Homo sapiens: one gene and its partner. The main gene of each other region encodes a partner of the protein of the gene in region 2 in a complex. Each region holds a gene or a part of one and is shown on either strand. Other genes may lie near its edges.

Region 1 (2,941 bases), on a different chromosome or scaffold from region 2:
GAGGCCGAAGCAGGTGGATCATCCGAGCCCAGGAGTTCAAAACCAGCCTGGGCAACATGGTGAAACCCCATCTCTGCAAAATATACAAACATTATCCAGGCATGGTGGTACATGCCTATAGTCCAAGCTACTTGGAGGCTGAGATAGGAAGATGCCTTGAGCCCAGGAATTCAAGGCTGCAGTGAGCTATGATCACACCACTGCACTGCAGTCTGGGGGACTGAGTGAGATCCTGTCTCTAAAACCAAAACAAATTTGAGGACAGGTGCGGTAGCTCATGCTTGTAATCCCAACACTTTGGCAGGCCGAGGCGGGCAGATCACTTGAGGTCAGGAGTTCAAGACCAGCCTGGCCAACATGGTGAAACCCCGTATCTACGAAAAATAAAAAAATTAGCCAGGCGTGGTGGTACATGCCCGTAGTCCCAGCTACTTGAGAGGCTGAGGCAGGAGAATGGCTCGAACCTAGGAGGTAGAGGTTGCAGTGAGCCAAGATCGGGCCATTGCACTACAGCTTGGGTGACAGAGCAAGACTCCGTCTCAAAAAAAAAAAAAATTGAAAATACCGTAAGTAGAAATGCATCAGGTTATAACCCAATAAGCCCATCATGAAGTTGAAAAATTGTAAATTGAACCATTGTAATTCAGATGCTTCTTGATTTAAGATGGGATTATGTCCTGATAAACCCATCATAAAGCCAAAACATCTTAAATTAAACCATCCTAAGTCAGGGACAGTCTGTAGGTAGTCCAGAATTGAAGTGAATTAGTGGATACCCAGCTGGCATCTACTGTAGAATTGACTGCTTACCTGATGTGTGTGGTAAGACCCCACCCATCTGGTATCAGAATTGTGTTGTGAGAGTGTGGCAGGAGAAACTGAGTCTGTTTATTCCTGTATACACACAGGGCTTCGTGCTGTGTCACTCCATCGCTGGGGGTACGGGTTCTGGCCTGGGCTCCTACCTCCTGGAGCGACTGAATGACAGGCAAGCCTGTGTTTGGGGAGAGGGCATTAACCCTGGTTCCCTGAGTAATGTCATTGCTTTTTTCTCTTGAGCTAGAAAGTCTGCCACTACCCCTTTTGAGTCATAGGGACAGACCCACCCAAGGACCATGTTGGAAGCTATTTTGGGGGGTGGGGGTTTACCTGTGGAGGGGAGGGGATCTACAGAGTTTGAAGCTTTCAGGCTTATCCTTTTTGGCTCTGAAGACTCAGTTCTGCCCTCACCCCTTTTGTACAAAATGGCACATATGGGCAGTGATGGAGGGGTCCTTCCGGTTCACTATGCCACCATCCTCTTTTCTCTCAGGTACCCCAAGAAGCTAGTGCAGACTTATTCAGTGTTTCCCTACCAGGACGAGATGAGCGACGTAGTGGTTCAGCCCTACAATTCACTCCTGACACTCAAGAGGCTGACGCAGAACGCAGATTGTGTGGTGAGCAAAGAAAGAGTTGAGGGGCTGGGTGTGGTGGCTCATGCCTGTAGTTCTAGCACTTTGGGAGGCCTAGGCAGATGGATTGCTTGAGCTCAGGAGTTCAATACTAGCCTGGGCAACATGTGAAACCCTATCTCCACAGAAAATACAAAAATTAGAGCTGGGTGCGGTGGTTCACACCTGTAATCCCAGCACTTTGGGAGGCTGAGACGGGCGGATCACCTATGGTTGGGAGTTCGAGACCAGCCTGACCAACATGAAGAAACCCCATCTCTACTAAAAAAACAAAATTAGCCAGGCGTGGTGGCGCATGCCTGTAGTCCCAGCTACTCGGGAGGCTGAGGCAGGAGAGTTGCTTGAACCTGGGAGGTGGAGGTTGCAAGGAGCTGAGATTGCAGCATTGCACTCCAGCCTGGGTGACAGAGCGAGACTCTGTCTCAAAAAAAAAAAAAAATTAGCCAGTCCTGGTAGCATGTGCCTGTAGTCCCAGCTACTTGGAGGCTGAGGCAGGAGAATCACTTGAACCCGGGAGGCAAAGGTTGCGGTGAGTCAAGATCACACCATTGCACTCCAGCCTGGGTGACAGAGCGAGACTCTGCCTCAAAAAATAACATAAAAAAAAATTAGCCGGGCATGGTGGCATGTGCCTGTAGTACTAGCTACATGGGAGGCTGAGGTGGGGGGATTGCTTGAGCTCAGGAAGTCGAGGCTGCAGTGAGCCATGATCACACCACTGCACTCCAGCTTGGGCAACGGAACAAGACCTTGTGTTTAAAAAAAAAAAAAAAAGGGTAGAGGACTTTGGTCTGTCTCCTCAGGCCAGTGAGTCTCATTCACCCCACCTTTCCTCAGCCCCTATACACACAGACAGAAGACCAACAAAGCCATACCTGTGGGCCAAATTAGGAAATAAGGTCCTGACTTCTAAGTTTCTTAGAATCCTTTTAGGCAGCAAAACTCTCAACAAAGTGAATATACCTTCCCCACACCACCACGTATCCCACCTTTGCCTACTTAATGCCCACTCATGCTTGTATTCTTAGCTCAAGGATAACTTTCTTAGCAAAACCCTTCCTGACTACTCAGTCAAGATCAGATTCCTATATGTGTATTTTAGGGAGTTAACTATAATTTTCTGTTTTATATTTAGTGTGCCTCCCTCCACGAGACTATAGGCCTAATGAAGGGAAAGACGGTGCCTGTTCCTCTCTGTGGTCTTCCCAGAGCCAGGCACAGTGTATGGCACATGTGGGTACTCACGTGTTTGTTTACTGCCCTGCGTAGTCCGAGAGTATCTCATGGTGCCCCAGAAACAGTACTTTTCTTTCTTTTTATTTTTTATTTATATTTATATATATATATATATATTATATATATTTATACTTTTTTATTTATATTTTTTACAGAGATGGCATCTTGCTGTGTTGCTCAGGCTGGTGTCCAACTCCTGGCCTCGAGTGGTCCTCCCACCTTGGCCTTGGGATTACAGGCCTGAGCCACCA
Region 2 (2,973 bases):
CAACCCCAGTGTGGAGCCCCCAAGTCATCTATGCTTGGCTGATGCTGGGTTTTGGGGTCCTGGCTCCCTAAGGGGCCTGACTGTGCATCCACAATGATGGAGAGTGGGTCTCACGCAGCTCCTCAGAGGCCTCACCCCATCCCAGCTCCCACCCTCCAGACCCGCAGGCACCCCCCAGGGCCGCACCTCCCGGAAGCCCTCCATAGCCCACAAATCTGACCTAAGTCCTGGTGACTCCTACACTCCAATGGAATCGTAATCCCTAAAATCGAGGTGGGCCTTTGCTAGGGTGGTTTCTACTGAGGATTAATCCCTGGAACAACTCTCTGAATAAAATAAAATAAAAGCTGGCTGCATGGTCAATTACCTTGGTAAACCTCTCGTGGAGATAAACAATATGCAATAATTTCTAAAAAACCTTGCAGTAGAAAAACCTGTTTCAAATTTCTGATTTTATGAACTTCAAAACTAAAATTACATTGAATTTCTGGCCTTTGCCATGAATTCATTTCTGCATGGCCAGGATTCCTGACAGCCCCTTTAGTTTTAAAGGTAATCCACACCTAAAGGAGTCAGAGGTGGATTCAGATAACTAAAGCACCGCTCCTGAGACCTGAGCGGTGACATTGCCTTTGCTTCTATACCAAAAGTCACACAAAGTCTACTTTCCTGGTTTCACTGATTAAATAATTCATATGCTGTACTATATTAAATCAAATTCTACCAACCCTCAACCCCCAAATCCAGCAAGTAAACTGTCCCTTCATAAACTACTCAAGAAATAACGAATGCATCTGAAAGATAATTGCTTTTAATTTTCTAAATTTTCACTTATGCAACATAAAGGCAGATTTATGTGACCTGATAATGACATTTTTACAAAAAACAATCCCCCCCACCCCAACATCTTGGTCAGTAGTATATAAATATTTACAATGAAAAAATAGGCAAGGAAAAAGGAAATCTTCATTATCCATGTCGATTTCTTTCCAATGCTTATCAGGAACTTTGAAAATAAAATACTCCATTAACTTTCTCGTCACTCCTATTTACACGCTGCTTTAGCTGATGCATTCGCGGTATTTGGGTTGCACTGTATAAGAGTATTTTTGTTCTCTATCACTCCTACTTTTTTCTATACTATTTTAAAAATCTGAAATAGTAAATTAAATATAAAAATGTAAACTCTGAAAGGAGAGAAAATAAGAATAAATATGTGTAAAGGTAATGCATTAAGATACAAAGGATCTCACAGAGGTTAATATTTTACAACACTAAAAAAAAATAAAATGCTCTATATATTTTCTTAGTTGGGACATTTTGTTTCAATTTAATTTTTGGTTATGTTAACAAAAATTACCTCTAAAGAGGATGTTAAAAAAATAGCAATGACGTTACCATCTTAACTAATGAATATCCTATCACCCTAATTTTTTCTAAAAGAAATGGATTTTTTAAAGTGACAAATATAAATTATAACATAGAAAGCTTAAGAAGCCTCAGCAAATTATGGTATCTTTTAGCGATGAAGACTTTTAGAGACAAATGTGAACAGTGCAGCCAGCCTACTTGACTTAGGGATTTACAAATGCATTCGACTCCGACATGTGAAACACGACGTGGCTTCTCCCACACGCCGCTCCGCTGAAACATGGCGCACTCGTGGGCGGAAGGGCAGGACACCTGCAGCATGCAGTTCCTGCAGGACGTCAATGGGAATTTCGTGTCTAGCAGTGCAACGAACATCACCCGCAGCTCCCTGGGAGGACCGCGAGCTTCACGTGTGGGAGCTGCGCCGCCCCCTGGTACCCAGAGACACACGGAGCCTGGGCTCCCTGGCTTTGTAATGCTCGTTGAAGTCCAGCCTGAAGCTAAGAAACCGAAGACTCTCGTCAGAGCTGGTCGTCAGTAACACCAAAAACTGCTGCACGATACCCTAAAAAGAAGCAAAAGGAGTAAAATATTGTTTCAGAAAAGAACAACCCACAAACGTATTCCCCGGACCTTAATCTCCTTTGGGTTGGGTCTGTTTTTCCTTCCAGATCAACAGGCCCTTAGTAAATGCCCACCAGGGCAGGTGTCCAGGGAGCAAGAGCTGCTGGGACCCTGGAGTGCACACGGCCAGTGCACCTGCATTAGGAATGGGCGCCCTTTTACAAGGACAAATTAGTGAAGAATACATTTGATTTGAAAACAACTAACCAACAGGTTTTTTCACTTTGTTCTTAAGTTCCACAAGAATAAGCAAAACAGCAAAGTAACAGATGTTAGAACATTCTATTTTGAATACAAAACTCAGTGCCACATATTTCATCTTTCATATGACTCATGAAAGAGGATTTCATCCTAGAGCCCTTGCTGGAGAACAAATTGAGAGCATCAGTCGGGTCTTTGGGTCTAGCTGCTGGACGTGAGGCTGCAGCCGCCCTCTTCATGGGCACTGGCATCGCCATCATCCTGTTACTGAGGGCGTTTTTAAAGATGTGACAGAAGTTTCCCCTAACTCTGATAAGACGAAAGGACTGGCTGCTTCTATTTCAGGCTGAAAGACTTGCATACTGAGTACAGGCCCATCCCCGCCCAGTGCTGGAGCCTGCTGCATGCCACGGGGTGCTGATCTGTTCACAGAACTGCTGGCCTGGAAAGGCCTCATCTGCAGAGAAAACTCACTGAGGCACTGCGTCCTCACCAAGCCCCGCCCAAGTCTTCACCAGCTGTCACTGCCCCTTCCCAGCTTCTGGTCAGAAACACGAATGCTGAAGCTCACAGGCAGGCCTGGGCACAGGCTCTGCTGTGTTGATAAAGTAACTTCACCTCTGAGCAGGCAAACACTGTGTATGTGTGTGTGTGTGTGTGTGTGTGTGTGTCTGTGTGTGTGTGTGTGTGTATCACTGCCTTTTTAGGTGAGGGAAGAAGAACACGCCTAAGAAGTTATATTGCCAAAATATAGACAGTGACTTCCTATTATGTGAT

The links.
Region 1: TUBGCP3 (region 2) and TUBG2 share a complex: the UniProt entries of both Homo sapiens proteins name them as parts of the gamma-tubulin ring complex.

The regions. Positions count from the first base shown.
Region 1 is NC_000017.11:42,662,065-42,665,005, forward strand, and holds part of TUBG2 (tubulin gamma-2 chain), read left to right. Parts: intron 1-908; coding exon 909-988; intron 989-1,312; coding exon 1,313-1,439; intron 1,440-2,941. UniProt on the Homo sapiens protein: Tubulin is the major constituent of microtubules, protein filaments consisting of alpha- and beta-tubulin heterodimers. Gamma-tubulin is a key component of the gamma-tubulin ring complex (gTuRC) which mediates microtubule nucleation.
Region 2 is NC_000013.11:112,484,216-112,487,188, forward strand, and holds the end of TUBGCP3 (gamma-tubulin complex component 3), read right to left. Parts: intron 1,937-2,973; coding exon 1,778-1,936; 3' UTR 796-1,777; downstream 1-795. UniProt on the Homo sapiens protein: Component of the gamma-tubulin ring complex (gTuRC) which mediates microtubule nucleation.